Linked DNA regions of Homo sapiens. The protein of the gene in region 1 interacts with the protein of each later gene in a pairwise test. Each region holds a gene or a part of one and is shown in the gene's direction. Other genes may lie near its edges.

Region 1 (3,500 bases):
TAGTCTTAAGTACACTAATATTTTTCATTATGACTTCTGCTTTTATGTAGATCTTTTCAAATCATTTGTTGTATGTCTTTTCCTTACTTACAGCTAGGATATTTGAGAAGTTTTTTTTCTGTCTGTTGGCTACCTTTAAAAATATAACTTTTACCTAATCCCCTTATTCTTTGTTTTTCCTCTTCTTTTGTTTTTTTAGGGGGCATGTACTGACCCCCTTTGAACAATGATGAAATTAGAATGTTTCTACTTCTTCCTGTCTTAACTTAAATTTTTTTTGATATATTTAAGTATACATACATATACAAGTATACTTATTTCTTGGTGCGTAATCTTTACATGATGTCTTTGGCTCAGGTAATGAAAGTGAACATACACTCCCTTTCCCTTGGGTCATTAAAATAATCTTTTTATAGGTGGTATTTTGCGATGATTTCTGTGTCTGGAGTCTTCTCGGTCACGTTTTCTGTTATATTTGCCTATGTAGCTGATGTCACTCAGGAGCACGAGCGAAGTACAGCTTATGGATGGGTAAGATAATAGACTATATATATTTTTTAACCAGAATAGTAATTAACATTGTATTAGAAATTTACTGGAAAGTGAGTTTATTAGTCCTTTCTTGCACTGCTGTAAAGAAATATCTGAGACTGGGTAATTTATAAAGAAAAGAGGTTTAATTGTCTCACAGTTCTGCAGGCTATAAAGGAGGCATAGAGGCTTCTGCTTCTGGGGAGGCCTCAGGGAGCTTTTACTCATGATGATGGAAGGCAGAGCCAGAGCAGGCATCTTCACATGACTGGAGCAGGAGGAAGAGAGAGTGAAGGGGGAGGTGCTACACACTTTTAAACGGCCAGATCTCACAAGAACTCACTTACTATTAACAACCAAGGAAGGTGGTGCTAAGCCATTCATGAGAAACTACCCCCATGATCCAATCACCTCCCACCAGGCCCCACCTTCAACATTGGGGATTACAATTGAACATTTGAATTTTTTAAAAAATTAGTTTGATTTGTTTCTTGTTATCTGATCCCCGGAGGAGCGTTAAGCAGTCAAGTTGCACAAGCTCTTTGTGCACCTAATTTGGAGAGGTGCTGAACCTCAGCAATGTTAATCCATTGTTAACTCTATTAGTGGTTGTGTGTTTTGGACATACATTTGGAACATGGTATGTAGAAAAGGACTACATTCACTCATTCATCAAATCCATAGTTGCTGAATAACAAAAGTTATAGGAGACCTTTTTTTCTGATAATTAAAACCTGACAGTGTTTCTGATTTTCTCAGGCATGATAATGGCATTATGATTATGTAGAAGAAAGACTTGTTAGAAGATAGCTGAAGCGTTTTACATCAGTGTCAGGACTCTGCCAGTTACTTTCAGATGTTTCAGGGGAAAAGATAGCATAGCATGTGGATGTGCATGTGTGGGCATGTGTGTTCCATGCCTGAACCTGTGAGACATGGAAGTATGCTTGGTACCCTTCTCCCGTCTTCCTCTGTATTTGAAAATATTCAGAATAAGAAAGTGGAAGAAGAAAGATGATCTGGCTAGGTTGTGGGGAATAGGTTGGAGGGAGATTGAATGCCAGAAACTTAGGTTATTTATCTCCTTTTCCTGGGTCTTTTAAATCTACTTCCTGGAGTAGAGTAAGTTCTCATTCATTGCTGACTGAATGAATAACTTCCTGAATCAATGATGGGCATATAAATGGGTTACTACTATTCCACAAAACACAACAATTTTTAACTTGTTGACTTTAGACATCAGTAGTTTGAAAACTACTCTTTCAACCCCACTTCCCTCTGACTCTTCTACCTTCCCTCTCTCTCTCTCCTTGCTTCTTCCCTCCACTCCTGAATGTCCCTCTCATGTCATGCCCTAAAAAGGGGCATCTTCAGAGTCGTGATGGAGGAGGACAAAGATAGAAGCTGATAGGAAAGCTTCGAAGAAGACAAGATTTGGAGCTCACTCAGGAACACCAAAAACAAAAATAGGCCGGGTGCGGTGGCTCACGCCTGTAATCTCAGCACTTTGAGAGGCTGAGGTGGGGGCGGATCATGAGGTCAAGAAATCGAGACCATCCTGGCCAACATGGTGAAACCCCGTCTCTACTAAAATACAAAAATTAGCCGAGCGTGGTGGTGTGCGCTTGTAATCTCAGCTACCTGGGAGGCTGAGGCAGGAGAATTGCTTGAACCCAGGAGGCAGAGGTTGCAGTGAGCCAAGATCGCGCCACTACACTCCAGGCTGGCGACGGTCAGACCCGCCTCAAAAAAAAAAATGTCCCCCAAAACTCCAAAAATTAACAACCTCCCCCCGCCCTGCCAAAAAAAAGAAAAGAAAAAACAAAAACAAGAAGGTAGGTTGTTCAAGTTGTGCCCATAAGGCTTGGCCAACAGAGTAGTGAGGGACAGCTTTCTTCTACAGCATGGGAAATACCTGTTGAGATACTCATTTTTCTGCAATATTTGATTTTTGTTTCTCGCTTTCAGCTGGGAAACCCTTCACACAGCTGTTGTGCTGAGCAGTAGTGCTTTCAGGAAAGATTTAAGAGAGTTCTAACCAGAAGCGCCTGTGACTTAATTACCCTCTCCAGCTCAGCTCCTCATTGTATAATGGCAGTTAGGGTTAATATCTACTCACAGGGGCATTGAGAGCAATCAGTGAGCGCACACATCCAGACTGAGACGGCACTTAGCTGAAGTGTGCTCCCAGCCAGCAGAAGCAACTCAGCATGCAAGGCTGCCTGGATTGCAGTCTACCTATCTTCTAGATATAGGAGAATTTATTGCCAATTAATTACAGAACGTGTCAGTCAAGTTCTAAGGAGCATTTTGAGACCCATTAAAGAACAGTATAAAAATGTGTACACCTTCCTTACTCAGACTTCTTCAGTAAACCAAGAAAGTGGTAATTCTTTCAGGGCTACGGCAATGATTAGTCATGTTAATAAGTGAGTTAACACTTACTAAGAGTTTGTTGTGGGGAAGTCATTCTTTAGATTTATTCATCAGAGTTGTATTGAATGTTAAGTGAAAGAGGAGTTTAGATAAAAACACAGACTAAGCAAGTAGGCTACTTTAGGCTTTAAGATAGACACATTTTGCATAGAGTTTCATGAGGCCATAGACCCTTTAACACCTGAAGATGCTGCAGCAGTGCCCCCTTAACACCTGAGAAGAGTGTAGGAATGTTCCCATAACTGTTTGCTTGTCGTTGCAGTTTATAATGCAGTTATTTGGTTGCCCTGATATTCTTGAATAAAGTGGGAAAACCTGAGGGCAAGAGCTTTGTCTTCTTCATCTGGTACATAGTAGATTCTCAGTAAATATTGAACAAAGGATTCCTATTCCCCACATTGGAATTTTCCACATTCTTTTTTCCCCTCCAAAAATACTTGAGTTTTAGCTTTTATAGTACTTTTAGTATAATACTAATTTCAGATATACTGTGTTTTTTAATTCAGTTGGGAGATGATGGATGAAAAAGAATT
Region 2 (3,500 bases), on another chromosome or scaffold:
AAAAGTCTTATGAGGTTCTCCATGCATTGTTGTATTTGTAATTCTTTCTCTTACTGAGCTGAAATGTAATAAGGGGAGAACAGTAGACAATGAGGGTAGTGAGGTAATGGGAGACAAGATGTTAAGTGTAAGGCTTTAACTTTCTCTCTTAGTGAGGAGGGAAGCTACTGGAAGGTTATGAGCAGAAGTGTACCTTGATCTTACATTTTAGAGCAGGGGTCAGCAAAGTTTTTCTGTAAAGAGCCCATATGGTAAATATTGTAGGCTTTATGGATCACACAATCTCTGTTGCAACTTGATTTACAAAGAGACATCTGGCAGGATTTGGCTCCCAGGCTGCGGTTTGTCGACCCCTGTTTTAGGACTGTATGAGCTGCTATATTGAGAATAGATTCTAGGGGGTGAAAGTGGAGGTAAGAAGTCCAGATGAGGAGCTGTAACAGTAACCTACATCAGAGATCATGGTATAGACCCAGCAGATAGAAAGTGAATACACAGAGCAAAGAGGTTCTAGGACTGAGCCTCAGAACAACCTAACATTCAGAAGTCAGAAAGAGGAGGACTCAGCAAAATTGTCTGATAAGGAATGGCCAGTGATATATGAGGAAAACCAAGAGAGAATGGTATTCCAGAGCAAAAAGATGTCAAGAAGGAGAGAGTACAATAGCAGAACAACAAATAACCTGATTTAAAAAATGGGGAAAAGACGTGAACAGACATTTCCCCAAAGAAGGCATAGAAATGGCCACCAGAGGTATATGAAAAGATGCTTAGCATCATCAATTATCAGGGAAATGCAAATTAAAAGCACAATGAGATATCAACTGGCACTTGTTAGAATGGCTGTTATCAAAAAGACAAGAGATAATTGTTGATGAGGGTGTGGAGAAAAAGGAACCCTAGTACACTGTTGGCGGGAATGTAGATTGTTACAACCATTATGGAAAACAGTATGGAGGTTCCTAAAGAAATTAAAATTAGAACTACCATGCGACCCAGCAATTCCTCTTCTGAGTATATACCCCAAGGAAATGAAATCACCACCTCATAAAGATATCTGCCCTCTCATGTTCAGTGCAGCATTAATTTATAGTAGCCAAGATATGGAAACATCCTAAGTGTCCATCAATGGATGAATGGATAGAGAAAATGTGTCTACAATGGGATACTATTTAGCCTTAAAAAAGGAGATTGTGCTGTTTGCCATAGCATAGATTTTGGAGGACATTATGCTAAGTGAAGTAAGCCAGACATAGAAAGACAAAATACTGCATGATCTCATATGTGTGGGGAAAAAGTCATATATACAGTTGTATAATATAATAAATATAAAGAAATAAAACTGGTTACCAGGGATAGGATGGGAGGAAATGGGAAGATGTGGGTCAAAGGATACAAAGTAGCAAATATGTAAGAGGAGCAAGTCGAGAGATCCAATGTACAGCATGAGGACTGCAGCTAATGCAATTGTATTGCCTTAGGGATTTCTGTGAATTAAGTGGATTTTAGCTGCTCTTATCACAAAAAAGTAACTATGTGAGATGATAGATATATTAATCTGATTCATTATAGTAACCACTTTACTTGTCTATATGTATCCCATAACATCATGTTGTAAACCTCAAATATACACAATAAAATACCTTTTTTAAAAAAAGGAGAGAGTAATCAACTGTGTCAAAAGCTGCTGTAGGTCAGATGAGATTAAAGCTGAGAAGTGAACACTAGCATTTGGTAAGGTCAAGATCAGTGGTAACCTTGATAGGAATGGTTTCATTGAAGTCATGGGACAAAAGCCTGAATGGTGTAGGTGTGAGAGAATATGGACACAGGACAAAAGAGACGGCCTCAAAGTAGTTTTGCTGTAAAGGAGAGCACAGAAAAGGGAAGGGGGCTGGAGAATTGGAGTCTAGGGAGGATTTTTTCAACAATGGTTAATGATTACAGCTGATAGGTGTTCAGCAATGAAACAACAAAATCTCTGCCTTCATGAAGCTTACATTTTAGTATCGGGTGGGGGCAGGAAGATAGACAGTAATAAAGAAACACATAATTATATTAAACTGGCTACAAGATGTTGCCACTCAGATATCATATGGACATTTTGCATTCAACATATTCAAAATGACATTATCTCCTCCCCTCCCTTCCCCCACCTTTTCCTCTATTCCTCTTCCTTGTTTTTATATTGTAAAAAATGCCACATTCAGGACAGAATCTTGTGCCTTATCCCTTGCAACCATCCTGTCCTCAAACTCAGGAGTGTTTTTTTTTTTCTTCACAAACAGTTCCTCAGGTCTGCTCCCTCCTTGCCATCTCTACCTCGGCCCATTGGCATTCACTTCTCTTCTGGATCGCTACCTCACCGTCTTAACTAGAGTCTCTGCCTTCGTCCTCCCCCTTTAATCTCTTCTCCACAATGTAGCCAGAGTCATCTTTTAAAAATATAACCTGAGAGTTTTAAGGGACTTACTCAAGACCACAAGATTCATAGAGCCAAGATTTGATTTCCTTATGTCATGCTCCTCTTGGGGCTGGCTTTATGTAGGGGGTAGGAAGGAGCTAGGTCATCTTAAGCTAAGTAAGATATGAACATTGCCAGAAATGCATGTTTGTATGTAACTGACAGCTCATCAATTTGTCTGATGTTGGTTTGTTTTTGTAGGTGCACAGGTTTCATATTCCAGAAGGTTGGAAAGTTGGCTGCAACAGCTGTGGGAGGTGGATTTTTTCTCCTTCAGGTCTGTATGTGAAATGTTCTCAGATGTTTGGAAATTCCACCTGCCCATTAAGGAATGTGGTGTGGGGAGTTGTAATACAGTCCTGGCTATGTCACACTAGACTAGCCTTAGCACTTGTTTTCATGTACTATTTTAAATGCTAGTGACCGTTTGAGTCAAATTTTATTCATTATACTAGTAAATGTTATTTGCCAGTCCCATTTTATTTCCTCATGTGGCGACAGAAGTGCAAATTCCTTATCATAGCTCCCTTAAAAGAGTTTTTAAGACCAGCTGAATTATTAAGCGGATGTGATTTCAAAAATACAAGTGTGCTGTGATGATTTAGTGTCATATGCTAATATTATAGCTAGCTTTCACAGAGGGGATGTTGAGCATGTGATGAGAAATGGGAGCTAAGTGACAGTACAGTCAGATGTCGTCTGCTGTCTCCTTGACCCATAGTTTCAGAACCAGTGGTTGCCAGTTCTCTGAGACTGCTTAGGAGAGACTAACAAGCAAGACTTGAAAAAGGGAGCAGTTTCTCCAAAAACAAAAGAAAACTGACATTTGATTGTATTAGGCATACATTTCTTAGCTCTGTGGCATTGGTATTCAAATTTGGCTCCACATTGGAATCACCTAGGAGTTTTTAAAAGAGCCAACGTGTGCCACTCCTGACCCACAGTCTGATTTCATTGGAAAACTTAAAACTCCTGAGGTGATTCTGCTGTGCTGTGGGAGCCATAACTTGCTGAATCATGCCAGAGTCTCTGAATT
Region 3 (3,500 bases), on another chromosome or scaffold:
GTTGATATTTATCCATGGTGAAGCATGTGTCAGAGTTTATTCCTTTTTATTGCTAAGCAGTGTTCCATTGTGTATCTGTTTTACTACAGTTTGTCCATTCACCTGTTGGTGGACCCTGGGTTGTTTCTGGTTTTGGGCTCTACACCTAGAAGCTGCTATGAACATTTGTGTACAAGTTTTGGTATTGTTAAAGTATAAACTGAGGCAGAATAAAATTTTAAAGAGTTTTGTCTGAGCAAACAGCAATTCATGAATCAGACAGCAACAAATCAAAAGTGATTTGGGACTCCACCAAAGGAATGCAAGTGGAAGACTTCTATAGGATGAACAAGGAAACAAGGCAAAGAAAATATTTGATTAATTATATTTATATAGTTGCCTTGTTTAGTCCATCCTATTGGAAAGTCCCTAGTTATGTAAGTTAGTTGATGGCTTCTAATTGGCGTAGCCTAAGTTTGTTTGTTTCTTTTTTTTTTTTTTTTTTTTTTTTAAGAGACAGGGCTAGAGTGCTTTGGTGCGATCGTAGCTCACTGCAGCTTTGAACTCCTGGGCTCAAGTGATCCTCCCACCTCAGCCTCTCAAGTAACCAGGGCAACATGAACTACAGACATGCATCGCCACGCCTGGCTAATTTTTTAATTTCTTATAGAGGCAAGGTCTCGCTAGCTATATTGCCCAGGCTGATCTCAAATTCTGGCCTCAAGTGATCCTCCTGCTTCAACCTCCCAAGGTGCTTACAGGCATGAGCCACCATGCCCAGCCTGATTTTTCTTTAATATAGGCACAGACAAAAAATAACCAAAGTTTACATTTGCAAACAGCCCAAATTAAGTTTTGCTTCTATTGCTTATATTTGCAAGGTCAAGGTTGTTTTAATGGCTTAACTGGCTTTGTCCAGGGGATTTACAGACCTGGTCTCCATCTTATTTTAATAGTATGAATATGTGCTTTCATTTCTTTTAGGTAAATATCTAGGAATGGAATGGCTGGATCATATGAGTAGGCTTACTCACTTATTAAGAAACTTGGCCTGGACTACATAGCAAGACTCTCTCTCTAAAAAAAGATTTTTTTTTAATTAGCCAAGTGTATTAGTCTGGGTTCTCTAGAGGGACAGAACTAAGAGGATATATGTATATATGAAAGGGAGTTTATTAAGGAGAATTGACTCACACCATCACAAGGTGAAGTCCCATGATAGGTCATCAGCAAGTTGAGGAGCAAGGAAGCCAGTGGTGGATCAGTACGAGTCCCAAAAGTAGGGAAGCTAACAGTGCAGCCTTCAGTCTGTGCAGCCAAAGGCCCAAGAGCCCCTGGAAAACCACTGGTGTAAGTCCAAGAGTCCAAAAGCTAAAGAACTTGGAGTCTGATGTTCTAGGTCAGGAAGCATCCAGCATGGGAGAAAGATGAAGTCCATAAGACTCAGCAAGTCAGCCCTTCCATCTTCTCCTGCCTGCTTTATTCTACCCCCGCTGGCAGCTGAGTAGATGGTGCCCAACCAGATTGAGTGTGGGTCTACCCCTCCCAGTCCACTGACTCAAATGTTAATTTCCTTTGGCAACACCCTCACAGACACACCCATGAACAATACTTTGTATCCTTCAGTTCAGTCAAGTTGACACTCAATATTAGCCATCCCACCAGGTGTAGTGGCTCCCACTTGTAGCCCCAGATACTCGGGAAGCTGAGGCAGGAGGATCACTTGAGCCCAGGAGTTAGGCTACATTGAGCTATAATATGATAGAGGCACTGCGCTACAGCTCTGGTAACAGAGCAAGATGCTGTCTTTTTTTTTTTTTTAATAAGAAAATAATCTAACTTGTTAAGTTCATAACTTATTAACAAAACTATTTTATATTCCCATCAGCAGTGTATGAAAGTTCTAGTCCTTCCACGTTAACAACACTTGGTATGGTCATTCTTTTTAATGTTAGCCATTCTATTTTTAGCCCTTCTGTGTAGTGGTGTCTTATTATGGTTTGATTTGCATTTCCCTAATGACTAACAATGTTGAGCATCTTTTTTTTTTTTTTTTTTTTTTTTTTGTGGAGACGGGAGTCTCGCTCTGTCGCCCAGGCTGGAGTGCAGTGGCGGGATCTCGGCTCACTGCAAGCTCCGCCTCCCGGGTTCACGCCATTCTCCTGCCTCAGCCTCCCAAGTAGCTGGGACTACAGGCGCCCGCCACTACGCCCGGCTAATTTTTTGTATTTTTAGTAGAGACGGGGTTTCACCGTTTTAGCCGGGATGGTCTCGATCTCCTGACCTCGTGATCCGCCCGCCTCGGCCTCCCAAAGTGCTGGGATTACAGGCGTGAGCCACCGCGCCCGGCCGAGCATCTTTTTCAAGTGTTTATTTGAAGGGTTCAGGCCTTTTCCCACATTTTAATTGAGTTGTGTTTGTTATTATTTCATTTTGATCATTTTAAAATATATTCTTGGTACAAGTCCTTTATAAGACGCATGCTTTGCCCATATTTTCTCCAGGTCCATCACTTGTCTTCTCATTCTCTTAACAATGTCTTTGAAAGAGCACAGATTGCTAATTTTGATGAAATTCAATTTATCATTTATGCTATTGAATATCATATCTAAGAAATCTTTGCCTAACTCAGAGTGACAAAGATTTTATCCTATGCTTGCTTTTGGTTTTTTTCCATTTAGGTCTATGATTCACCTTGAATTACATGCTAGTGGATGTGGAGTGGTATCTAATTGTGCTTTTGATTTGCATTTCCTTTTTGGCTAATGGTGTTGAGCATCTTTTCATGTATTTATATAGGCCATTTATATATCTTCTTTAGAGAAATGTCTGTTCAGATCTTTTGCTTGTCGAGTTATCTTTTTTTTTTTTTTTTTTTGCTTTTTAAAGTAAGACAGACAAATGATTTACAAATGTTCTCTAATTGTATGGGTTATTTCTTCACTTTCTTGTTGATGTCCTTTGCAACACAAGTTTTTTTATTTTGATGAGGTCCAGTTAATATTTGTTTTGTCTTTGGTGTCATATCTAAGAAGCTGTTGCCTGATCCAAGGTCACAAATATTTACACATAGGTTTTGTTCTAAGAGTTTTCTAGTTTTGACTCTTATATTCAGATATTTGACCCATTTTGAGATAATTTTTGAATGTGGTGTGAAGTAGGAGTCTAGTTTCATTCTTTTGCCTGTAAATATCCAGTTGTCCCAGTACTATTTATTGAAAAAACTATTCTTTCTCCCATTGAACTGCCTTGCTATTCTTGTTGAAAATCAACTAACCATAAATGTGATGATTTATTTTTGGGCTTTAAGTTCCATTCCATTGACTATATGTCTATTTCTATGCCATACCACATTGTCTTAATTACCTGGGGCTCTGTAGTAATTTTTGGAATTGGGAAGTGTTTTCCTTCAATTTCATTTTTCTTGTTCAATATTATTTGGGTTATTCTGGGTTTCTTGAATTTGTATAAATTTTAAGATCAGCTTGCCAATTTCTGCAAGAAGTCCACTGGGATTCTTG
Region 4 (3,500 bases), on another chromosome or scaffold:
CATAACAACCTTAATATTTCTTTGACCTAAAATTTTGTTTCTTTTCCTTCTTCTAATTATAAAAGAAATGAAAATTATTTAAAACATTTTCATGGGCCTTTCGAAGCATTGTGGGCCCAGGGCACTGTGCCTGTTGTGCCTAGTGCATAAGTCAGCCCTATTCGAAGTAGGGCAGAGTGGAACTGTGCCTTGTGGGCTTTGCCCACCGTGCCAGGTAAAGCTCATCTCTTGCCACCAAATGATCACACCAGCTACCGCCTAGGTTGTCCTCACCCTGTATTAGACACTTAGCATTTTTCTTTATTTTATTTTAAAAATAATTTTTTGTAGAAATAAGGTCTTACTGTGTTGCCCAGTCTGGTCTCAAACTCCTGGCCTCAGGTGATCCTCCCATCTCAGCCTCCCAAAGCAGCATTTTTCATTGCACTTATTCCTCACCACAACCCAATGAAACAAGTTTTAGTCTCATTTTACGGAAGGAAAAACTGAAGTTCAGGGGAGTTAAGGAATTTTCTTTTCTTTTTTTTTTTTTGAGATGGAATTTCCCACTTGTCACCCAGGCTGGAGTGTAGTGGTGCAATCTCGGCTAACTGCAACCTCTGCCTCCCGGGTTCAAGCAATTTTCCTGCCTCAGCCTCCCGAGTAGCTGGGACTATAGGCGCCCACCACTATGCCCAGCTAATTTTTGTATTTTTAGTAGAGACAGGGTTTCACCATGTTGGCCAGACTGGTCTCGAACTTCTGATCTCAAGTGATTCACTCACCCCGACCTCCCAAAGTGCCGGGATTACAGGCATGAGTCACCGTTAAATTTTCAAAGATTAAAAAAATTTCCCAAGGTCACACAGCTAGTAATGGCAGAGGCAGGATTTTGCGCCAAGTCTGATTTACTGCAAGCCTGTGTTCTTTCTGTCATGGTGTACTGCTCCCAAGGTCTCACTCCACCCAACTGGCTGGTGCACATGAAAGAGAAGGCAGAAGAAAGGGGGCCGAGTCCCAGGGTGGCTTCCCATGGAAAGAACTCGGGGAGCCGCCCTCTGCTGGGCAGGTCTAGAGCAAATAAGTAGGCTGGCAGACTTAGGTGGCAAAAGATCTGATGCCTCAGTGATAAGAGATTTAGCTCAAGCTGGGAACAAGGACCACAAAGAAGCCAGCCAGTATCTGGGTTAACAAAAAAAAGAGTAAGTGAACAGAATAGATCTTGAAGGTCATTTGCTATTGGTTAGGACTTGGGTGGGGCCTTCAATCTTATGAACCTGAGCAGGGAAGGTTTGGAAAGACTGTAGTGCTATTTAATAATTATTCCTTTGTTTGGACAAAAAAATGGGGTAGAAACGGGAGAGAATGGGGGAAAAGCTATAAGCCATTTCCTCCTTTTATGCCAGCTTTCCTGAACTTAGTTTATTTTGTTGTTGTTTGTCCTTTTTTTCTTTTTTTGAGACAGGGCCTCAGTTTCACCCAGGCTGTAGAGCAGTGGCTCAATCACAGCTCACTGCAGCCTCAACCTTCCCAGACTCAGGTGATCCTCCCACCTCAGCCTCCCAAGTAGCTGGGATCACAGGTGCGTGCCACCATGCCCAGTTAATTTTTGTATTTTTTGTAGAGACAGGGTTTTGCCATGTTGCCCAGGTTGGTCTTGAACTCCTGGACTCAAGTGATCCTCTGGCCTCAGCCTCCCAAATTGCTGGGATTATAGGTGTAAGCCACCTTGCCAAGCATGTTCTTTTATTTGAAAGGTAATACATGCCCCTCAGAGAACAGCTTTCTAGACCTTTTCTATGTACAAACATATATATGCATATTTATAGGGTTTTTTAAAGTTACTTAAAAAAAAATACACAGAGAGACAGGGGTCTCGCTATGTTGCCCAGGCTGGACTCAAACTTCTGGCCTCAAGCAATCCTCCCACCTCAGCCTCCAAAAGTGCTGGGATTATGGGTGTAAGCCACTGCACTCTGCCAATTTACTTTTTTTTTTTTTTTTAAACAAAGATGCAGTCCTACTACATATACCACCTGGCAGTTTGCTTTTTTCATCTAACCATGTATCCTGTCCCAGTAATATTGTAGATCTCATATTCGTTTTAGCAACTGTTTCCACAATGGATGGCCTGTAATTTATTTCATCATTCCTCTCCAGATAGACATTCTAAGTATGTCTGGATTTTTTATTTTAAAATTTGATTTTAATGAGAATTCTAATAGAACACTTTCCATTTATAAAAATTCAAAAATTAAGGCTGAGAGGGGTTCTGATGCTCAGCTAGTTCAACTAACCATTCTGTCCTAGAATTCTCTCTCCAAGATGCTACGTAGCTTTTGTCCAGTTTTGCTCTTCCTTCTGTTGGGGAGACATCTGTCTTTCCCAGTTTCTGCTGTTAGTTCTCTTGTACAGGTCATGCCTTGGCATATTAGAAGACAGAATTCAAGCTCTAGGCTCCCTTTTTTTTCTCTGGGCTTTCTCTTGCAAGCTTTCCTTATCTGACATGGTTTGCCTGCTCACTTCAAAATTGTGACACCCAGGCCGGGTGTGGTGGCTCATGCCTGTAATCCCAGCACTTTGGGAGGCCGAGGTGGGCAAATCACAAGGTCAAGAGTTCGAGACCAGCCTGGCCAACATGGTGAAACCCTGTGTTTACTAAAAATACAAAAAATTAGCTGGGCATAGTGGCGGGTGCCTGTAATCCCAGCTACTTGGGAGGCTGAGGCAGGAGAATCGCTTGAACCTGGGAGGCGGAGGTTGCAGTGAGCCAAGATTGAGCCACTGCACTCCAGCCCAGGTGACAGAGTGAGACTCCGTCTCAGAAAAAAAAAAAAAAAAAAATTAAGGCTGGGCACGGTGGCTCACACCTGTAATTCTAGCACTTTGGGAGGCCAAGGTAGGTGTATCACGAGATCAGGAGTTCGAGACCAGCCTGACCAACATGGTGAAACCCCCTCTCTACTAAAAATACTGTAATCCCAGCACTTTGGGAGGCTGAGGCGGGTGGATCACGAAGTCAGGAGATCGAGACCATCCTGGCTAACATGGTGAAACCCCGTCTCTACTAAAAATACAAAAAAATCAGCTGGGCGTGGTGGTGGGCGCCTGTAGTCCCAGCTACTCGGGAGGCTGAGGCAGGAGAATCGCTTGAACCCAGGAGGCAGAGGTTGCAGTGAGCCGAGATCACGCCGCTGCACTCCAGCCTGGGCCAGAGAATGAGACTCCGTCTCAAAAAAAAAAAAAAAAAAAAAAAATTGGCCGGGCGCGGTGGCTCACGCCTGTAATCCCAGCATTTTGGGAGGCCAAGACGGGTGGATCACGAGGTCAGGAGATTGAGACCATCCTGGCTAACACGGTGAAACCCTGTCTCTACTAAAAAAATACAAAAAATTAGCCGGGCGTGGTGGCGGGCACCTGTAGTCCCAACTACTCAGGAGGCTGAGGCAGGAGAATGGCGTGAACCTGGGAGGCGGAGCTTGCAGTGAGCCGAGATTCTGCCACTGCACTCCAGCCTGGGT
Region 5 (3,500 bases), on another chromosome or scaffold:
TGTGTCCCGGGCTCTCAGGCAAGTAGCTCAGGCCCCAGGCTCTTGGTTCCACCCTGTGCACCTGAGGGACATTCTTTGTGGAGTCCCCAGAGAAGGGCTGGGGGTCACCTGGGTGGGTAGGGAGGTGCGGGCTCCAGAGAGGAGAGACTGGCTGGTGCTGGGGTCCGAGTGGAGGGAGGGTGCTTCTGAGCCCGGTCAGCCAAGCCCCCAGCCCTAACCCTAGGTGCTGCCCGCAGGCCGGCAGTGCGAGTGGCGCTCCATTGACGGCAGCATCGTGCTGCCCCTGGCCCGGGGCTCCCCAAAGGCACTGGCCCTGGAGTACGCACTGTGCCTCACAGGCGACGGCTTGGCCCACCTGCAGGCCACCGACCCCCAGCAGCTGCTCCGCCTCATCCCCCATGTGCAGGTGTTCGCCCGTGTGGCTCCCAAGCAGAAGGTATGTGCACAGCCCTAGGGGTCAGGGGCACAGCGGTAGGCACGCAGCCCCTGCTCAGCCTGTCTCCGCCCATACAGGAGTTTGTCATCACCAGCCTGAAGGAGCTGGGCTACGTGACCCTCATGTGTGGGGATGGCACCAACGACGTGGGCGCCCTGAAGCATGCTGACGTGGGTGAGTGCTGTGGGCTAGGGTATTTCGTTTGTGGACGAGGTGTTGAGGACATGTCACTGAGCTAGAAAGACAGACCTGGCCCTTGGTGACAGCCACGGGGGCACTAATTCCTGTGAGGATGGGAGGGGGTGGCAAGGTCAGGGGCTTTGAGGGCAGGAAGGGATGCGAATATCCCAGGAACAGAGCAGGGCGGAGGCCAGAGGCCAGGAGAGAGGCAACAAGTTGGGAGAGTGACTCAGAAAACCCAGAGCTGAAGCCATGAAGATGGTTCATAGCCCCAGATCTCTGTCAAAAGCACACAGATGGCTGAGCACTGTGGCTCCTGCCTGGAATCCCAGTGCTTTGGGAGGCTGAGGCGGGAGGATCACTTGAGTCTGGGAGTTCAAGGCAGTGGTGTGATCCACTCTAACCTAAGTGACAGTGCAAGACCCTGTCTTTTTTTTTTTTGACGGAGCCTTGCTCTGTCACCCAGGCTGGAGTACAATGGCACGATCTGGGCTCACTGCAACCTCCATCTCCCGGGTTCAAGCGATTCTCCTGCCTCAGCCTCCCAAATAGCTGGGATTACAGGCACGTGCCACCATGCCTGGCTAATTTTTGTATTTTTAGTAGAGATGGGGTTTCACCATGTTGGCCAGGATGGTCTCCAATTCCTGACCTCAAGTGATCCACCCGCCTTGGCCTCCCAAAGTGCTAGGATTACAGGTGTGAACCACTGCATCCCACCGAACCCTGCCTTTTTTTTTTTTTTTTTTTTTTGAGACAGTTTCTCTCTTGTTGCCCAGGCTGGAGTGCAATAGCACGGTCTCAGCTCACTGCAACCTCTACTTCCCGGGTTCAAGCAATTCTCCTTCTTCAGCCTCCCAAGTAGCTAGGATTACAGGCGCCAGCCACCATGCCCATCTAATTTTTGTATTTTTAGTAGAGATGGGGTTTCACCATGTTGGCCAGGCTGGTCTCCAACTCCTGACTTCAGATGATGCGCCTGTGTTGGCCTCCCAAAGTGCTGGGATTACAGGTGTGAGCCACCTCACCTGGCCTTTTTTTCTTTTTTCTTTTTTTTTTTTTGCAAGAACTCAGGTGTTAAATTGAATTTTAAAGATCAATCTTACGTTGGTTTTTTTGCTTTTCCAATATTTATCTGCTTTTATCTACTAAAGCATTTATTGAGTGTTGTTTGCCTCCTAGAATCATGCTCCTTGGCTATTTCTTTTGAAATCAGTTTAGGTTGTTTTGTTTTGTTTTATTTTGAGACTGTCTCGCTCTGTCGCCCAGGCTGGAGTGCGGTGGTGTGATCTCATCTCACTGCAACCTCCGCCTCCCGGGTTCAAGCGATTCTCCTGCCTCAGCCTCCCGAGTAGCTGGAATTACAGGCACATGCCACCACCCCTGGCTAATTTTTGTATTTTTAGTAGAGACGGGGTTTCGCCGTATCAGCCAGGCTGGTCTCAAACTCCTGACCTCAGGTGATCCGCCCACCTCAGCCTTCCAAAGTGCTGAGATAACAGGTGTGAGCCACTGCGCTCGGCCAAAATCAGTTTAGTTTTGACCTATCTCGTGTTGTGTGTTTTTTCATTGCATTTGTTGTGGGGGTTTATTGTTGGTGGTTTGTTTTCTTAAAGTAGTTTGTAGAAAGCAACACGGGCACTCTCTGAGGTCTCCTTAGGGTGTCAGGTGAAATGGGGAAGTCTGGGAACTGTCCTCACGGGAGCCAGCTGGGGGACTTCAGGACCAGTGGCTCTGAAGCCAGCAATCTTCCCCTCCGTGGAGCCTGCTCCTCCGGGTCTGACACCCTCCTGCCCCCCAGGTGTGGCGCTCTTGGCCAATGCCCCTGAGCGGGTTGTCGAGCGGCGACGGCGGCCCCGGGACAGCCCAACCCTGAGCAACAGTGGCATCAGAGCCACCTCCAGGACAGCCAAGCAGCGGTCGGGGCTCCCTCCCTCCGAGGAGCAGCCAACCTCCCAGAGGGTGAGTCCCAAGAGGGGAGGTGCTGCACCCCATCCTGGCCAGGGCTGACAGCCTGCTGTCTACCCTGCAGGACCGCCTGAGCCAGGTGCTGCGAGACCTCGAGGACGAGAGTACGCCCATTGTGAAACTGGGGGATGCCAGCATCGCAGCACCCTTCACCTCCAAGCTCTCATCCATCCAGTGCAGTGAGTTGCCTGCCCCCGCTCCCCCTCCCTTCATTCCCCCCTTGGCACCCCTACCCACACCCACACCTGCCTCCCCACCACCCTGCAGTCTGCCACGTGATCAAGCAGGGCCGCTGCACGCTGGTGACCACGCTACAGATGTTCAAGATCCTGGCGCTCAATGCCCTCATCCTGGCCTACAGCCAGAGCGTCCTCTACCTGGAGGGAGTCAAGTTCAGTGACTTCCAGGCCACCCTACAGGGGCTGCTGCTGGCCGGCTGCTTCCTCTTCATCTCCCGTTCCAAGGTGGGCCCCAGAGGTGCTGGAAGGCCAGGGATGCATGGGCCTGCCAGGGCCAGGCTGATATAGGCACGGGAATTGTCATCCCCAAGTTACAGGACCCAGGGCCCCAGAGATGGGGGCTGTAGCTGGGATGGCTCAGGAAATGCTGGCAGGGCAGGTGTGGACTGAGGCTCCCAGACCCCTCCAGGTGGTACAGCTTGGCGTCCACACCTGTCCACAGGTAGGGGTCCCAGGGGTGGGCCCCACAGAGCCCCACAAGCAAGGAACAATCATCAAGAGGGTAAAAAAACAACTAAGTGGGTCATAGGCTACACAGGACAGGCTGGTGGACAGCTGGGGAGGCCTGTGCGACACCGACACTCAGGCCAAGGCGTAAAGAACCAGGGGGGCCAGCGGCCAGGAACTGGACACAAAGGCCCCAAACAGGCATGGGCTGACGCAGGGAGTCCCCGGTG
Region 6 (3,500 bases), on another chromosome or scaffold:
AAAGAATATTAATAATTGTGAAGTAGGATAGTAACAACTTTTTTTTGGCCAGGCATGCTGATTCCCGCCTGTAATCTCAGCACTTTGGAAGGCTGAGGTAGGAGGATTGCCCGAGACCAGCCTGGGCAAGACAGGGGGACCCCAGCTCTACAAAAAATTTAAAAATTAGCCAGGCATGGTGGTGCATGCCTGTGGTCTCAGCTATTGGGGAGGCCAAGGTGGGAGGACTGCATGAGCTTGGGAGGTTGAGGCTTCAGTGAGTGAGCTGTGTTCGTACCACTGCCCTCCGGCCTGGAGGGCTTTTTTTTTTTTTTTTAGACGTAGTTTCGCTCTTGTTGCCCAGGCTGGAGTGCAACAGCACGATCTCAGCTCACTGCAGCCTCCACTTCCTGGGTTTAAGCGATTCTCCTGCCTCAGCCTCCCTAGTAGCTGGGATTATAGGCATGTGCCATCACACCAGGCTAATTTTGTATTTTTAGTAGAGATGGGGTTTCACTATGCTGGTCAGGCTGGTTTCAAACTCCTGACCTCAGGTGATCCACCTGCCTCGGCCTCCCAAAGTGCTGGGATTACAGGCCTAAGCCACCGTGCCTGGTTTTGTTTGTTTGTTTGTTTGTTTTATTGAGATAGTCTCTCTCTGAAGCCCAGGCTGGAGTGCAATGGCACGACCTCAGCTCACTGCAACCTCCACCTCCTGGGTGCAAGCGATTCTCCTGCCTCAGCCTCCCGAGTAGCTGGGATTACAGGCGTCCGCCACCATGCCTGGCTAATTTTTGTATTTTTAGTAGAGACAGGGTTTCACCATGTTGGCCAGGCTAGTCTCGAACTCTTGACCTCAGGTGATCCACTCGCCTCGGTCTCCCAAAGTGCTAGGATTACAGGCATGAGCCACCACGCCTGGCCTCAAATGCAATTTTATGCAAAAGTCTTGATACATACCAAACCATTGTGGTTATATACATGTAGGGGTTCCTTCTCAGTTAATCTCTCTCCCCATAACATTCCAACCTGTGCCTCTACACATTTTACTTTTATTATTACCTCTTCCTATTCATATCTACCTGGGGAGTTTCTACTGTTATTTCTTTCACATTCAGTACCTGACTCCTTTTCTCTTCCATTTGCTCTAAAGTTAGATGCCCAGCCTGTCCTCCCAGCATCTGGTGCATACCTCTCTTTTGAGCTACATCAGTGGTTGCAAACCCAGTTTTGAGAAGCCTTTTCCCTAACTCAGCCATCCCACTGCAGTATCCTGACATGTTTTAGCACCAAAAGCTTGAAATGAGAGGGGTTGGGATCCAGAGTGCATATCAAAGGATTGAATTTTGAGAGCCAATAGAAGACAGAGGGTGCAGATACAGATAGGATTGTAGATTGTGATAGGCATCTGAGCAGCTCCTGCTAGCAGTCATTCATCAGGGAGATAAAAAGCTGGGTGCCATTAACTGAAAGAGAGGAGAAATTAGACTAGGTGGGAAATAATCTTGGAGTGCTAGGTGGAAAGAGTAGGCTGGAAGGCCTACTAGAGAAATGTGGGGACATTAGGTGGCATTGTATCCCAGTAGAGGTTGTTGGTAATGACTTGTAATGGCATTACTGCACCATCCTCTCTGACTTTTTTTCCTCCTTTCAGTGATGCTCAGCTGTTTGGGTATAGACAGCAAATAAGATGGTTGGGTTGGGTCAGGCACAGTTGGATTTTATTAAGGGAGTGTACAAGAGGGACTCCTAAGAGCCAAGGGTGTGGATAAAGAGGAAAATGAATATAAGTATAGGAGGGGTGAAGAAAGTTGTGGGGTCAGTGGACTGGAGGTTTTAGTGAAGCTGAAGGATCATTTCAAGAAGGAATTTCATCGGGGCTTTGGAGAGTCAGTGAATTCAGGGGACAGTCCATTCATTTAATGCAAGATAGTGGATGGAAAGTCCCAAGAGTTGGAGGATATAGAGGTGTTTCCTGTTCACCGAGCATGAGATCCAGAGAATACATTTTTTGTTAATAAAGACATTTTAACAGGTAGAGCCAAATTGCCTGTGTTGGAATCCCATCTCTGTCATTTACTAGCTGTGTGACTATATAATCTCTCCGTGTCTCGGCTTCTTCATCTGGAAAATGGGGATAAAAATAATACCTATCTAGTAATGTTGTATTAAGGGTTAAATGAGTTATTAATGTCTGTAAAAGCACTTCAATAAATACCACCATATAGGAAGTATATATAAGTACTTATTAAATAAAAATAGTGTCTTCACTATATATTTAATATATAACTCTTTTAAAGTGTTAATGCCTAGCAACTGTTTCCTTCCTCTCCCCCTCTATTTATTCCCATAATCTTATAATTAAACCTTTGCCATATGCTCATTTGCACTAGTTCTCTACACATTTTTTCATTAGGCTCGTAAGACTGTGCTAATCATTCAGAAAAGTATATTTTAAATATCTCTATTTTATGAATTTTATTTTAGCTGTTAAACGTTTAATGAAAGAAGCGGCAGAATTGAAAGATCCAACAGATCATTACCATGCGCAGCCTTTAGAGGTTAGTTTCTATCTCCATGTTCTTCATATGGATTTTAATATTTAAAACAAATTTTTTAAAATTGCTTTTCATTGCTTTGAGTCATTACAGATGTGTGTGATGTAGTTTGACGTTTTATTCACCATATTTCATGAATATTTCATTAGCCATTCCAAATCACTTTAGAAGAAACGGATTTTGTGGTCTTTATAAAATGGGTCTCAGATGCTAAGTTGAGGTTAGATCTTTTTTTTTTTTTTTTTTTTTTTGAGGCGGAGTCTCACTGTGTTGCCCAGGCTGGAGTGCAGTGATGTGATCTCGGCTCACTGCAACCTCTACCTCCCAGGTTCAAGCAATTCTCCTGCCTCAGCCTCCTGAATAGCTGGGATTACAGGCCCCCACCACCACGCCCGGCTAATTTTTGTATTTTTAGTAGAGACAGGGTTTCACCATGTTGGTCAGGCTGGTCTCAAACTCCTGACCTCGTGATCCACCCGCCTTGGCCTCCCAAAGTGCTGGGATTACAGGCGTGAGCCACTGCACCCGGCCGAGGTTAGATCTTGAGTCTGAGGGAGGGGAGGTGGAAAGAACCCCAGATACTTTACAGTTTGGAAGCCTTTTGATGGGTCTCCGTAGCTACTCAAGGCTTTTTGTATAAACATCTCGGCCTCTCTCAGTCTTCTCATTTGTAAAAGGAGGGTATTTAAATATACCCAGGCAGGTTTTCATGGTAACAGTGGGAATAAAAATATCATAACTTAAGTGCAAGTATTTTGTAAACTGAAAAGTACATGGTAACTGTAAGATGACATTAAATACATTAGTATTACCATTTTATAAATAAGCTCTTAGGCATCTATAAGGGATAATTTTTAAAGATTTGTTAAAATAACCCAAACATAGTAATTTTTTGATTATATAATTATCATAATTTGCTATTCTTTCAAGGATTAATTTCCAATTTAAACCTGTAAGTTACTT
Region 7 (3,500 bases), on another chromosome or scaffold:
GGCCTTTTCCAGGGCTGCAGGCCAGTTCCCCTTTGGGTTGGGCAGTATTGATTGATACTCTTCCTGGGAAGGTGGCAATGCTTACGGGCTTTGGATCAGTGCTAGGCTCATATGCTTAACTGCCACTGACAAGGTTTGGAGCCCACGGGCAAGGTCTTTAGTTTCTCGAGCTAGTTTTTTTTTTTTTTTTTCGTGAGACAGAGTCCCCCTCTGTTGCCCAGGCTGGAGTGCAGTGGTGCCATCTAGGCTCACTGCAACCTCTGCCTCCTGGGTTCAAGCGATTCTCCTGCCTCAGCCTCCTGAGTAGCTGGGATTACAGGCGCCCACCACCACGCCCGGCTAATTTTTGTATTTTTAGTAGAGATGGGGTTTCACCATATTGGCCAGGCTGGTCTTGAACTCCTGACCTTAAGTGATTCTCCCACCTTGGCCTCCCAGAGTGTTGGGATTACAGGCGTGAGCCACAGCGGCTGGCCTTGAACTAGCTTTTTAATCCATAAAATGACACCTGGGTGTGCGAGACCCGGCTGACATTGGCTGATGGTGTGCATCTTCCCAACTCTGTGTTCAGGGATATCAGGCTGACATCTCTAAGTCACAGGTAGGGTATTTACATCACGGAAAGTGGCAAATGCTACAGCTGAGGCCCCTTCCTCTCTCCTGCCCAATGTTCATATTGACTGGGATAATTGTCCCTGCCTCCCAGGGTTATCGTTTCAAGGGTTTCTTGGTCTGGTGAGCATCGTATGAGCAGATACATACCTGGAAAGCCTCAGCTTGGTGCAGCACCTTGCAGCAGCTAACATTTGACAAGTAGTACGGCCCTACTCACCTCTGGACCTCTGGACACGGGGCAGATGTGGGGAGGAGGGGCCGAGGAGGGGGCGGGGCCGAGGAGGAGGAGGTGGGGCTTGAGGACGGGGAGGGGTGTCGAGGAGGGGGAGGCGGGTCCCAAGGAGTAGGAGGCAGAGTTTAGCAGGAAAAGGCATGTCCTGAGGAGGAGGAGGGGGCAGGGCTGAGGTGGAGGAGGTGGTTCCTGAGGATGAGGAGGTAGGGCTGAGAAAGAAGAGGCGGGGCCGGGGGGGAAGGGGAGGCCGAGGGGGAGGAGGTGGGGCTCAGGAGGAGGAGGCGGGGCAAGAAGGAAGCGGCGGGCCTGGATGGGGGAGGCGGGACCAGGGAGGGGGAGGCGGGACCAGGGAGGGGGAGGCGGGACCGAGTAACAAGAAGGTGGGACGGGATGAGTGGTGGGCTTTGGTGTGTGCCAGGTGGAGTAGCTGTTTCAGCCGCACCCAGGTGGATTTAGAGGCTCCACCAGCTGGGCCCAGCAAAGCCTTCTGGACTAACTGGTTCCTGAGAACAGAGGAGGGTTGACAGCCTTGAGTGAGGGCGGTGCTTGGAAAGGCCTTGCGACTCTGATAAGGTGGTTGGGTTTGGTCGGGAATCCTGCACTTTCATTGACAAGCCTGGCTGCGTGAGAAAGGCCAGAGACCTTGAGCTAGTTGGTCAAGTTCAGGCTGGGTCTTAACACCTTCTTGCTGATACTGATAGTGGCAGCTGAGAATGTTTTAATACCTGGGACATTTCCTGCGGCAGCCAGAATATAGTAATCTTCCTAGTAAATTACGGTGAATATAGTGCTTAATTATCAGTGTTTTTTTTTTTTTTTTTTTGAGACGAAGTCTCGCTCTTGTCCCCTAGGCTGGGGTGCAATGGCGTGATCTCGGCTCGCTGCACCTCCGCCTCCCGGGTTCAGGCGATTCTCCTGCCTTAGTCTCCCGAGTAGCTGGGATTACAGGTGCCCACCACCACACTTGGCTAGTTTTTGTATTTTTAGTAGAGATGGGGTTTCACCATGTTGGCCAGGCTGGTCTGAAACTCTTGACCTCAGGTGATCCGCCCAACTTGGCCTCCCAAAGTGTTGGGATTACAGGCGTGAGCCACTGCGCCGGCAGTGTGAGTGCTTCTTATCTAGTAACATATCTAAATCGTGTACTAAACATAAGACGTAGATGCTGTTCTTATCTCTACTTGACTGATGGAGAAACTGAGGCACAGAAAGTGAAGCGACTTGTCCACAGCTAGTGGCTAGCAGAGCTGGGATTCTTCTAGAACCAGAGTGGGCTTTGCTGTGGGTCGTGCACTGGGGAAAGAATCAAGTGTGTGGTGGTGGTGAAGGACTTGGAGGCCACCCACTCTGTCCTTGGGACAGTGACTTAACCTAAGCTTCAGTTTTGTCACCCTGTGAGGCCAGGATAACGACACCTGGGGGCCTGTGGGGGAGTGTGAAGTGCTCAGCATGCTTCGCGGCCCACAGGCAGGGTAAAAATCCTTAAGCGGAGAGGGACCCACGTTAGGCAGGTAAGGACAGATCAGCATCCCCAGGGCTGCCTGAGATGCTTTTGGCACCTGACCTCTTTGGAAGGCCTCAAAACTCTTTTTTTTCTTTTTTTTTTTTTTTGAGATAGAGTCTTCCTCTGTCACCAGGCTGGAGTGCAGTGGCGTAATCTTGGCTCACTGCAACCTCTGCCTCCTGGGTTCAAGTGATTGTCCTGCCTCAGCCTCCCGAGTAGCTGGGATTACAGGCACGTGCCACCATGCCTGGCTAATTTTTGTATTTTTAGTAGAGACGGGGTTTCAGCATCTTGGCCAGGCTGGTCTTGAACTCCTGACCTCGTGATCCACCCGCCTCAGCCTCCCAAAGTGCTGGGATTATAGGCATGAGCCACCACGCCTGGCTGAGAAAAGCTTCAAAACTTAATGAAGAAGGTCCACCAGGCGCCAGGAGACAGACTGATGTCAAATCATATGCCCAGAAGGTGGAGGAAGAAGCCCAGATGCCAGTGCCTCAGTTTTGATATAATGTCACACACCATGCAAGTCACATTTTTTTTTTTTTTTGAGACAGAGTCTCGCTCCGTCACCCAGGCTGGAGTTCAGTGGCTCCATCTCGGCTCACTGCAATCTCCGCCTCCCGGGTTCATGCGATTCTCCTGCCTCAGCCTCCTGAGTAGCTGGGACTACAGGCGCCCACCACCACGCCCGGCTAATTTTTTTTTTTTTTTTTTTTTTTTTTTGTATTTTTAGTAGAGACGAAGTTTTACCGTGTTAGCCAGGATGGTCTCGATCTCCTGACTTCGTGATCCACCTGCCTCGGCCTCCCAAAGTACTGGGATTACAGGCGTGAGCCACCACACCTGGCTGCAAGTCACATTTTGAGATGATCAGCTCTTTCCTTCTTCATGGGAAGACCCTTGGGGAAGTCACACCACACTCAGAGCCCACTTTTTAACCTGTTGTGACAAAGAATCATCCCAGGAAGTGGAGGCTAGAAGACAGTCTGGCCACCAGGTGCCTGTCACAGCTGCCTCACCTAGGAGCACACTGCTTCTGTTCCTGCTCCCTCCTAGCTGACTGTTCCCCACCGAGCCACAGGCAGAAGGCCTTTTTGCCTGTAAGTGGGAGGATCTTAGTGTGCCATGGCTCAGAACCTTCCCTCAGAG

Evidence for each region.
Region 2: the proteins of SLC71A2 (region 1) and FUNDC2 interact in binary tests that used the Homo sapiens proteins (3 or more experiments, as listed by UniProt).
Region 3: the proteins of SLC71A2 (region 1) and CSGALNACT2 interact in binary tests that used the Homo sapiens proteins (3 or more experiments, as listed by UniProt).
Region 4: the proteins of SLC71A2 (region 1) and SMAGP interact in binary tests that used the Homo sapiens proteins (3 or more experiments, as listed by UniProt).
Region 5: the proteins of SLC71A2 (region 1) and ATP13A1 interact in binary tests that used the Homo sapiens proteins (3 or more experiments, as listed by UniProt).
Region 6: the proteins of SLC71A2 (region 1) and UBE2J1 interact in binary tests that used the Homo sapiens proteins (3 or more experiments, as listed by UniProt).
Region 7: the proteins of SLC71A2 (region 1) and TECR interact in binary tests that used the Homo sapiens proteins (3 or more experiments, as listed by UniProt).

Annotation. Positions count from the first base shown.
Region 1 is NC_000009.12:94,440,569-94,444,068, forward strand, and holds part of SLC71A2 (hippocampus abundant transcript-like protein 1), read left to right. Parts: intron 1-416; coding exon 417-531; intron 532-3,500.
Region 2 is NC_000023.11:155,043,844-155,047,343, forward strand, and holds part of FUNDC2 (FUN14 domain-containing protein 2), read left to right. Parts: intron 1-2,665; coding exon 2,666-2,741; intron 2,742-3,500. UniProt on the Homo sapiens protein: Binds directly and specifically 1,2-Diacyl-sn-glycero-3-phospho-(1'-myo-inositol-3',4',5'-bisphosphate) (PIP3) leading to the recruitment of PIP3 to mitochondria and may play a role in the regulation of the platelet activation via AKT/GSK3B/cGMP signaling pathways.
Region 3 is NC_000010.11:43,144,945-43,148,444, forward strand, and holds part of CSGALNACT2 (chondroitin sulfate N-acetylgalactosaminyltransferase 2), read left to right. Parts: intron 1-3,500. UniProt on the Homo sapiens protein: Transfers 1,4-N-acetylgalactosamine (GalNAc) from UDP-GalNAc to the non-reducing end of glucuronic acid (GlcUA). Required for addition of the first GalNAc to the core tetrasaccharide linker and for elongation of chondroitin chains.
Region 4 is NC_000012.12:51,260,416-51,263,915, reverse strand, and holds part of SMAGP (small cell adhesion glycoprotein), read left to right. Parts: intron 1-3,500. UniProt on the Homo sapiens protein: May play a role in epithelial cell-cell contacts. May play a role in tumor invasiveness and metastasis formation.
Region 5 is NC_000019.10:19,646,677-19,650,176, reverse strand, and holds part of ATP13A1 (endoplasmic reticulum transmembrane helix translocase), read left to right. Parts: intron 1-236; coding exon 237-436; intron 437-513; coding exon 514-610; intron 611-2,417; coding exon 2,418-2,578; intron 2,579-2,648; coding exon 2,649-2,763; intron 2,764-2,851; coding exon 2,852-3,048; intron 3,049-3,500. UniProt on the Homo sapiens protein: Endoplasmic reticulum translocase required to remove mitochondrial transmembrane proteins mistargeted to the endoplasmic reticulum.
Region 6 is NC_000006.12:89,342,723-89,346,222, reverse strand, and holds part of UBE2J1 (ubiquitin-conjugating enzyme E2 J1), read left to right. Parts: intron 1-2,466; coding exon 2,467-2,540; intron 2,541-3,500. UniProt on the Homo sapiens protein: Catalyzes the covalent attachment of ubiquitin to other proteins. Functions in the selective degradation of misfolded membrane proteins from the endoplasmic reticulum (ERAD) and is essential for cells to recover from ER stress.
Region 7 is NC_000019.10:14,536,094-14,539,593, forward strand, and holds part of TECR (very-long-chain enoyl-CoA reductase), read left to right. Parts: intron 1-3,500. UniProt on the Homo sapiens protein: Involved in both the production of very long-chain fatty acids for sphingolipid synthesis and the degradation of the sphingosine moiety in sphingolipids through the sphingosine 1-phosphate metabolic pathway.